Linked DNA regions of Homo sapiens. The protein of the gene in region 1 purifies or fractionates together with the protein of each later gene. This does not show direct contact. Each region holds a gene or a part of one and is shown on either strand. Other genes may lie near its edges.

Region 1 (5,331 bases):
GCCAAACCACTGGGCTTCCCTGTCAGCAGAAAAGGGATGGGCTCAGTGTGTGCTGAAGCATTGAGAATCATCAATGCTTTACCATCTATCCAGGTATTCCTTAGTCTAGTCAAGTTGACATCTGAAATCAATCATCACAGGTTCGCCCCTTATCAACTGGCACCCAGAGGCACCCACTGGCATCTCCTTAAACCATACTTAATCTCCAAGGACAGTATCAAGGTCATAGTTCCACCTATCGTGACACTACTATCCTGCATAGCAAAGACACATTAATCCCTTCTCCAGAGAGGAGGTACAGTCCTTGAGTGCTATTCACTCCTCTCTCCTCTGATACTCAATAACTTAAATACTATGATGTAAAATTAATACTTAAATACTGCTATAGACTCAACACATGTTCTAAGAATAAGGAGTAAGAGAGGAAAGAAAACAGATATTTGCCTAATATACATGTAAATGCATACAACCGTATTCTGAACAAAATAGGGAGGAAATACTCCCAGCAATTCTGGCCCTTGTTTCTGTAACTGGTCACGTGGTTGGAGCTGGTATTTATTATAACTACCTCCCTCTGTCCTGTTCTGTGTTCCTTTCGTCTGCAACAAGCACCTCAGCTGGCTGTGGTTCTTTAAGTGGCAGAGTGACCCAAACATTCATTCCTGAAGGGTCTGAGTCATTCACAGTCCTGCCTGGATTGTATCCTTGTAATTTCCCATTGACTTAATCACAGGGCATGGTAATACTAACAGATGCCCTAAGGAGTATCCTGTACTCCAGACACACTCTTCCTTGCCTCATTGTGGAGCAGTCCAGATCAATTTCCCCTTGGTAGTCCAGATCAATCTCCACAGCCAACACCATCACTCCCCTCTCAGCCTGCTGACCCAGAGGCACAGGGAGCCCAAAGAAGCCAGGTGGCAGCCTTACCCCCCGTTCAATGGAATCACTGTTGTGTCTCCTGGTAGGAGCATTCCTCTCTCTGGAACCAAGACCTCCAGGCCAGCAGAGCATAAAGTCACAGGAACAGGAAGCAACAATTTCGCTAGCGGGTCCCTAGGGGATATGATGCGCAGTGCCACTCCCATTTCCTCCCCTTGATTCCTGGACCCGTGAATCCTGGCTACGGGAGAAACCAGCACCATATATTGGATGCTGATACAGAGTACATAGAGCCTTTTGAAGACCCCTGACCCAGCCCTACAAAGTATTGTCACCTAGCTGGCATTGTAATTGCAACTTCAAAAGACTCTACTGCCCTTCTTTCAAGTCAGCTGCTTCAGGATGGTGGGGAACGTGGTCATTCCCAGTCCCAGGTCAAAGACTCCGGAGACCACTCGTACGAGTCCCAGAGTCCAAAGGCCAGAGAACCTGGAGTTCTGACATCCAAGCGCAGGAGAAGAGCATCCCAGCTCCGGGACAGAGAGCCAGGATTCACCCTTCTTCCAGGCCCCCGGCTGACTGGATGGTGCCTGCCCACATGGAGGGCAGATCCTCCCCACCCAGTTGAGTGACTCAATTGCCAGTGTCCTCCAAAAACACCCTCACAGACACATCTGGGGCAGCCCGATCATTCTACACAATGTCAAACCACTGGGCTTCCCTGTCAGCAGAAAAGGGACAGGCTCAGTGTGTACTGAAGCATAGAGAATAATCAATGCTTTACCATCTACCTGGGTATTCCTTAATCTAGTCAAGTTGACATCCAAAATCAATCATCACAGGTCCACCCCTTACCAACTGGCACCCATAGGCACCCACTGGCATCTTCTTAAACCATACTTAATTTCCAAATAAAGGCAATAACAAGACCGTAGTTCCACTTAGCATGATAGGCGAAACCAGTGGGCTCGTGCTCACCGGCCAATTCCCTGCACATGATCCCAGTGCCACACTTCCTTGGTTGTGAAGTGAGCTCCCTGGAAGCAGTGCTACACGGACAGCGTGACAGTGGGAAAGGTGTTCTGTCAATCAATGGATGGTGACTTTGGCAGAAGCACTGTGTGCAGGGAAGACGAATCTGTATCCAGAATAAGTGCCTGCTCCAGTAAGGACAAAACGCTGCCCCTTCCAAAACAGAAGTGGTCCAATGTGCCTTCCACCAGGTGCAGTGATCATCCCGGGGAATGGGGCCATACTGGAGCTCAGTGTTAGTCTCCGCTTCTGGCAGACTAGCAGCCAGTGGTAGCCATAGCCAGGTCGGCTTTGGTGAGTGGCAGTCCATGCTGCTGAGCCCATGCATCACCTCCATCTCTGCCACCATGACCACTTTGTTCCTGAGCCCACCAGGCGATGACAGGGGTGGCCAGGGAAAGAGGCTGACGAGAATCCACCTAGGTCATCCTACCCACATACCTCATGTCCTGTGCGCACTCGGGAGGTCTATCCGTGTCCTGTGCGCACTCAGGTCTATCCACATACATCTTCCCCCAATTGCTTTTTTGTTTGGTTGGGTTTTTTGATACAGGGTCTCATTCTGTTGCCCAGGCTGGAGCAATCACAGCTCACTGCAGCCTCAACCTCCTAGGCTCAAGTGATCCTCCCACCTCAGCCTCCCAAGTAGCTGGGACTGCAGGCATGAGCTACCACGCCCAGCTAATTTTTTATTTTTGTAGAGATGGCGGGGGCGGGGAGTCTCACTATGTTGCTCAGGCTGGTCTCGAACTCCTTGGGCTCAAGCAATCCTCCCACCTTGGCCTCCCAAAGTGCTGGGATTACAGGTGTGAGCCACTATGCCAGGCCCCCAGCTTTCTTTGTCACCAATCTTCCAATCATACTCTTTCCAAGTCCCCAAATCCCTGACCATCCAGCCAAATCATCAGGCACAGCCCATGGATCAGTATATAATCACTCATCTGGCCATCTCTCCTTCGAAGCAAGGTGCACAACCAGGTGCACTGCCCGAAGCTCTGCCAGGGAGGATTTCCCTTCACCCCCATCCTTCAGAGGTGTCCCAGCAAGGGGCTATAGTGCTGCAGCTGTCCACTTTCGGGTTGTGCCTTCATATAGTGCAGAGCCATCTGTAGCCATCTGCAAACCAGGCTGACTAAGTCTTCTCTTCCACTGTCAATCGATCAGAGGGAACTCCCCAGGAGACCATAGATACAGGCTGGAGAGAGAAGGCAGTGGGCAAAGTAAGAACCATGGGCCTTTGGACCACTTCCTCATGTCACTTACTTGTGCCTTCAGGACCTGCTCAGACCTGATCCCATATATACCACTTCCTCTCGATGGCAGCGTTCTGCCACACATGCCCAATGTCTGGTTTGGTCGGTCAGATCATAGATAACACCCACTTCATGATGGGCAGCTCAGGTCACATGGCAACTTCGTGGCTGATGGTCAAACATTAAGTCTCTACTAGGGTCCAGTATTAGGCCAAGAGCTGTCTCTCAAAAGGAATGAAGTTATTTGTGGATGATGGCAGGGCCTTGCTCCAAAATCCCAAGGCCTGTACTGCGATTCATCTACAGGGGCCTGCCAAAGGCTTTAAGCAGCCTCCCTGTCTGCCGCTGACCTCAACCACCACTGGATCTGCTGGTGGCCCAAGTGGCAAAGCAGGTTGCACAGCAACCTGGACCTGTTGCAGTCTTCTGCTACGGGCCCCACTCAAAACTAGAAGCGTTAGGGTGACTCAGCAAATGGGCTGGAGTAACACACCCAAATGAGGAATGTGTTGCCTCCAAAGTCCAAACAGGCCCACGAGGCATTGTGCCTCTTTCTTGGTTGCAGGAGGAAAGCTGTAACAACTTATTCTTCACCTTAGAGGGGATACCTTCACAGGCCTGACACTACTGGACCCCGAGAAATTTCACTAAGGGAGAAGGTCCCCGAATTTCAGTAGAATTTATTTCCCATCGCTTGACATGTAAATGTCCTACCAATAAGGCTACAGTGGTTGCGACTTCTTGCTCACTAGGTCCAATGAAGCATGATGACATCAATGTAATGGACCAGCATGAGACCCTTTTTTTTTTTTTTTTTTTGAGACAGGGTCTTACTCTGTTGCCCAGGTTGGAGTAAAGTAACACAATCACTGCTCACTGCAAGTCTTGACCTCCTAGGCTCAAGCGATCCTCCCACCTCAGCCACCCAAGTAGCTGGGACCACAGGCACACACCATCATGCCTGGCTAATTTAAAAAAAAAAAAAATTTATAGAGATGATGTCGGCCCGGGCGCAGTGGCTCATGCCTGTAATCCCAGAACTTTGGGAGGCCAAGGCGGGTGAATCACTTGGTGTCAGGAGTTCAAGACCAGCCTGACCAACATAGTGAAACCCTGTCTCTACTAAATACAAAAAATTAGCTGGGTGTGGTGGCGCATGCCTGTAATCCCAGCTACTCAGGAGGCTGAAGCAGGAGAATTGCTTGAACCCGGGAGGCGGAGGTTGCAGTGAGCCGAGATTGCACCATTGCACTCCAGCCTAGGCAACAAGAGCAAAAAATCCATCTCAAAAAAAGAGAGAGAGAGAGAGAGAGATGACGTCTCACTGTGTTGCCCAGGCTGGTCTCAAACTCCTAAGTTCAAGCGATCCTCCTGCCTCGGCCTCCTGAAGTGCTAGGATTACAGGAGTGAGCCACCGTGCCCAGCCCCAGTATGATATCTGTGGAAGGGAAAGGTGATCAAGATGACTGTGAACTAAACTGTGACATAGGGCTGGAGAGCTGATATACCCATCAGCCCAGACCGCCAAGGGGCATTGCCGGCCTTACCAGCTGGATGCAAACTGCTTCTGCTGGGCCTTATGGACAGGTATAAAGAGAAGGGCATTCGTCAGATCAACAGCTGCATGCAGTAGCAGGGACCAGAGATGTGTGAATTTTGCAGTCACCACTTGGTTAAGTTTACAATAATCCACTATCAGTTTCTAAAGTCCATCTGTCTTCTGCACAGGCCAAATCGGAGAGTTGAATGGGGATGTGGTGGGGGTCACCACCCCCGCCTCCTCCAAGTCCTTGATGGTGGTGCTAATCTCGGCAGCCCCACCCCAGGGATGCAATGTTGCTTTTGATGTACTATTTTCCCAGGCAGAGGCAACGCTAATGGTTTCCACTTGGCCTTTCCCACCATAACAGCCCTCACCGCACAAGGCAGGGAACCAGTGTGTGGATTCTGCCAGGTGCTAAGTATGTCAACTTTGAATCTGGAACCAGGAAATAACCCCAGGATGGGTTCAGGGATCCACGGGAGCCACCAGGAGTCAAACCTAAGCTAAAACTCCATTGATCACCTGACCTCCATAAGCCCCTTCTCTGACTAGTGGGCCACAGTGAGTGATATTTTTGGTTTCCTGGAATCAGTATCAGTTCAGTAACCAGTTATCCCCGAA
Region 2 (4,736 bases), on another chromosome or scaffold:
GAGTATCTGGGACTACAGGCGCCCGCCACCATACCTGGCTAAGTTTTGTATTTTTAGTAGAGACGGGGTTTCAGCATGTTGGCCAGGCTGGTTTCAAACTCCTGACCTCAGGTGATCTGCCGGCCTCGGCCTCCCAAAATGCTGGGATTACATTACCATATAAGTAAAAAAGTATTCTATTTAAAAATTTCCCTTAAACTTGAATGTCATTTATTCTATTTAAAAATTTCCCTTAAACTTGAATATGTCACTTATTCACTTCTGGTAGTCAAAGGCTCCCAGTTCCTGTCCTCAGCAGCACAGCTCCTTCCATCCTGCTGCTAAAACAGTTGACAGTGAGATTTACCAGTTCACATCAGGGTGAATTAGGTTAATACCTTCTTAAAACTCAGGCTTAGGGAAGGAAGTGATATGTATTAACAGATCAAAGCCTGAATATTTCTCTATAAAATGTTTATTCTGTAGTTTTTTGTAGTAATTTTAGTTTTCCATTACTTTTACGATAAAATCCAAACCCCATAGTAATGACACAGAACGAAGGCCATACCTTATATTTGAAGTGCTCTTTTTTCTTTTTTCACTACTTTTCTTCTTAGCTACACCTCTAGATCTCGTCCGCTCAAGGGTTACCTGTTTAAAGTGGAGTTTTCACCTCCACAGGCTGAATTAGATATTATTTCTCTGTACTCGAATAGCATTCACCACTGTTAACAGCACTTACCAGTGCTGAAACATAATTGATTTCTTGCCTTCTTGACTAAACTGACCTCTATGCAACTCAAAGAACACATCTCAATCATCTCTGTACTCTCTACCTATCAGAGTTTAGTGCACCGTAGACACTCAGTAAATAAACAACTAAATATTGAATTTGTGATGTTACTGAAAACTCCTTTAATGAAAAGCATTTAACACCATAGGGAAGACTGAACACCAGGAAAATTTACTTGCATGACTAATTATCGTGTTCTCTTTTTAAACAATAATTGCTTGTTTTTCTTCCCAAGTATTTATGCGCTGCCAGTTGAGCCGATTACAGAAAGGGCATGCCACAGATGAATGGTTTCTGCTCAGCTCCCATATACCATTAAAAGGTATTGAACCAGGGTCCCTGCGTGTTCGAGCACGATACTCTATGGAAAAAATCATGCCAGAAGAAGAGTACAGTGAATTTAAAGAGGTATTAAATTATTTATCAGTCTTGTTTTTGTTGGAATTAACAGAAACATTTAACATTTAATAAAAGATCCATTAAGGTAAACATAGTAATTCATAGCTTAGTAGCACAATGATGCCAGAGATTTTAAACCTTGTTTTATACTGTAATTTTGGTAGAAATAAGTAGACTACGAATTCATTCTATTTTAAATAAATTTATTCAATGGGACATCATTTTAAATATAAGAACTTGTGAAAGAACATATTTCTTGTTAGTCTCATGGAGCATGCTTATAATGCTACGTACTTTAAACAATCTTTTAAAATGTCATTTTAGCTTATACTGCAAAAGGAACTTCATGTAGTCTATGCTTTATCACATGTATGTGGACAAGACCGAACACTACTGGCCAGCATCCTACTGAGGATTTTTCTTCACGAAAAGCTTGAATCGTTGTTGTTATGCACACTAAATGACAGAGAAATAAGCATGGAAGGTATGGTATGGCCATGTTAGTGTGATACAAGAAACTGGGTTTAGATTTTATATCAAGGATATATGGACTCTATCTCTGAATATACTAAATTGTTAAATTATATTGCAAAATAAGTTATTCTGTTTTCCCTCCTTAAAAATTGCAGTTGGATGTCAGTTCTGATTATGTTGGTTACTATGGGAAGCTGATATTTCTAATGTAGGTTTTGGCAGATAAGTACTAGAAGCCACAAGAAGGTGGTATCTGTGTCTACATCAATGGCTTGACTGTTTGGCATATTTATCTGTATTCTCTTGTTTTTTATTTTCTTTTGAGATGGCATCTCAGTCGCCCAGGCTGCAGTGCAGTGGCGCAGTCTCGGCTCACTGCAACCTCTACCTCTCAGGTTCAAGCGATTCTCCTGCCTCAGCCTCCTAAGTAGCTGGGACTACAGGCATATGCCACCACACCCAGCTAATTTTTTATTTTATTTTTTTAGTAGAGACGGGTTTTCACCATGTTGGCCAGGCTGGTCTTGAACTCCTGACTTCAGGTGATCCGCCTGCCTCAAGCCTCCCAAAGTGCCGGGGTTACAGGTCTTGTTTAATTTTTACTTCTTCATTACACAGAAGCTGGGTGTCAGCTGCATTTTATTTCTAACTTTTATAGATAGGTAGTTCCCAAGCTGCTGGACACAGTGCTTTTAATGGCTTACAAAATAATCCACCCTCCCCCTGGCCCACACACACCACCAAGCACTTTGATTCATTAACAGTTCTTGCTTCTAGGTTCCCCAAATAAATAGTAAAGTTTAGAACTATTTTCCTCCTCATCACAAAATATAGATTTGTCAAGGAATAGATAAAATGGTGGTCCTTATTTTACACTTGAGTTTATCTTTTCTGACAGCATTTGTATTTCATTAAAATTTTACTGAAACTCAGTAGACATATTTTAAGCTAATAAATTAATCTATACTGGGATTTTGTGTTATATCCTTAATTGTAAATAAACCCTAAAATTTCAAAGCATGGGGTCAATGGGCAGCAAAGCTGATTTATGGTCCTAATTTTATCATTAGCTGTCTAATTGATCTTAAGTCATATAACAATTCTGAGTCTTCATTTTTCCATATGAACATGGCAGTGTTAATCCCTTCTGTTCATGATCTAATGAGGTAATACATATGAAAGTCTTACAGAGTTAAGTCTGTAGAAGTATAGGATGTCATTGTAATTAGTACTTTCAACGCTGCACGCAAAAAGCACATTTAAGTGGCTATTCCTGTTGAGGTAAAATGAATTCACTTAATTTCCAATTTGGTCACATTAGGTCAGTCCTTTACAAATAATCTTCTAATGTAAATATTTGTGTAGATGAAGCCACTACCCTATTTCGAGCCACAACACTTGCAAGCACCTTGATGGAGCAGTATATGAAAGCCACTGCTACACAGTTTGTTCATCATGCTTTGAAAGACTCTATTTTAAAGATAATGGAAAGCAAGCAGTCTTGTGAGGTAAGAATTTAATGTTTTAATAAGTATTTTTGCAAAGAACATATTTTAATAGGTAATAATTTGTAGCCAATTACATTTTAAGGAAAATATATTAAATTTCTAAAATTATTCCTCATAGCAGTTACACCTGTCTGTAATACATTTATAAAAATGTTCTGCAAAATGGACTTCTTAAAAAAGATGTACTTTATTTTGGGATTAAAAACCATCAAGTTGCACCAGAAATTCATGAAAATACTTTGTCATTTCCTCTACTGTACTAATAATCTATATACTACTTACAGAAAGCGTGCATAAGATAAATTGAAGGTTTTGTTAGTGACTCATTATATAACCTATGTAGCACTTCATTACATCTTGGTTTGTTCTTGAAGGTTTTTTTGCGAGGGGAGAATTATGAGATAACCTCAACTAAAACAAAAAAATCTTTTTAGGATTATTAAAGTTTCAGTATAAATTCATAATACACTATTAAGACAGTAAGTGGAATCTCACACACATATTCTCTCATTTTAATGGTAAAGCAACTACAAAGAAATAATATATATTAGATCTGATATAAAAATCAGTTTAAGGAATTGTTTTTGACAATGGACACTGGGACCTAGCAAATGTTAATCCTGCACGAAGGTGTCGATTCATACTAATAACTTGAAGGGAAGAAATTAGTGATTTAATGTTGGAAATGTGGGGTAATGCCATAGTTGGCCTAACATAAGGATGACACAGAAGTGCAGCAGGTAGGTAGGGAGTCTCTGGACTTTAGAGATAGGCTACGGAATTCCGACTTCCATAGATAAATGTACTCTGCTGACACTAGATCAGAAGGGTTACAGGAAAAGTTCTGAGAAAGGTTTGTGATTCTGCCTAAGGCATTTGATATTTTTATTAGCCATTAAATAAGCCTCATTCAGAAAAGCTTTTAATCAGCTTTTTTTCCCCTCAAATAAATAGAATTGACTAAGCACTGTTTGCTTTTCAGTTGGCTAATTGGGAATAAATGGTAACAGACCTACCAGGAGGAGTTCCATAGAGAAAACTACTTAAAAACTCCCATTATACAAAGAAAAAAGATCAATACACACAGAGATACCGAAAAATAGACAACCTCGAAAACTATAACTACTTGTTTTCCTCTATTCATTTGCATTTGTCATTGCCAACATGCATTTATATTGATTTATTCCTTCTTTTAGTTAAGTCCATCAAAGTTAGAAAAAAATGAAGATGTGAACACTAATTTAACACACCTATTGAACATACTTTCAGAGCTTGTGGAGAAAATATTCATGGCTTCAGAAATACTTCCACCGTAAGTGGTGAAATTTTCATTTGACAAGAAATTGTGTATCTATGTCTTCAGAAATTTCTATTTCTAAAACGTGAAAGCTTTTCTGTTGTCCTAATATTATTATACTCTGAAAAAGTCATGGTTAATCTTTATGAGATGAATTGTATTTAAAGAAAATAGCTGTCTTAATAAAACCACCCATTATTTTCGTACAAGCCAATATGTCTGGTTTGTACTGTAGTAGCTTGGGGAGTGAATAGAGGTTTATAGTTTCAGATTTGAGATTGTAAAA

What was found. Proteins that work in one complex are often made in the same cells at the same time.
Region 2: the proteins of SPSB1 (region 1) and RASA1 purify together in Homo sapiens (affinity purification with western blotting, with the first as the bait; one study listed by BioGRID). This does not show direct contact.

What each region holds. Positions count from the first base shown.
Region 1 is NC_000001.11:9,298,619-9,303,949, reverse strand, and holds part of SPSB1 (SPRY domain-containing SOCS box protein 1), read right to left. Parts: intron 1-5,331. UniProt on the Homo sapiens protein: Substrate recognition component of a SCF-like ECS (Elongin BC-CUL2/5-SOCS-box protein) E3 ubiquitin-protein ligase complex which mediates the ubiquitination and subsequent proteasomal degradation of target proteins.
Region 2 is NC_000005.10:87,375,386-87,380,121, forward strand, and holds part of RASA1 (ras GTPase-activating protein 1), read left to right. Parts: intron 1-1,007; coding exon 1,008-1,180; intron 1,181-1,495; coding exon 1,496-1,655; intron 1,656-3,010; coding exon 3,011-3,153; intron 3,154-4,349; coding exon 4,350-4,465; intron 4,466-4,736. UniProt on the Homo sapiens protein: Inhibitory regulator of the Ras-cyclic AMP pathway. Stimulates the GTPase of normal but not oncogenic Ras p21; this stimulation may be further increased in the presence of NCK1.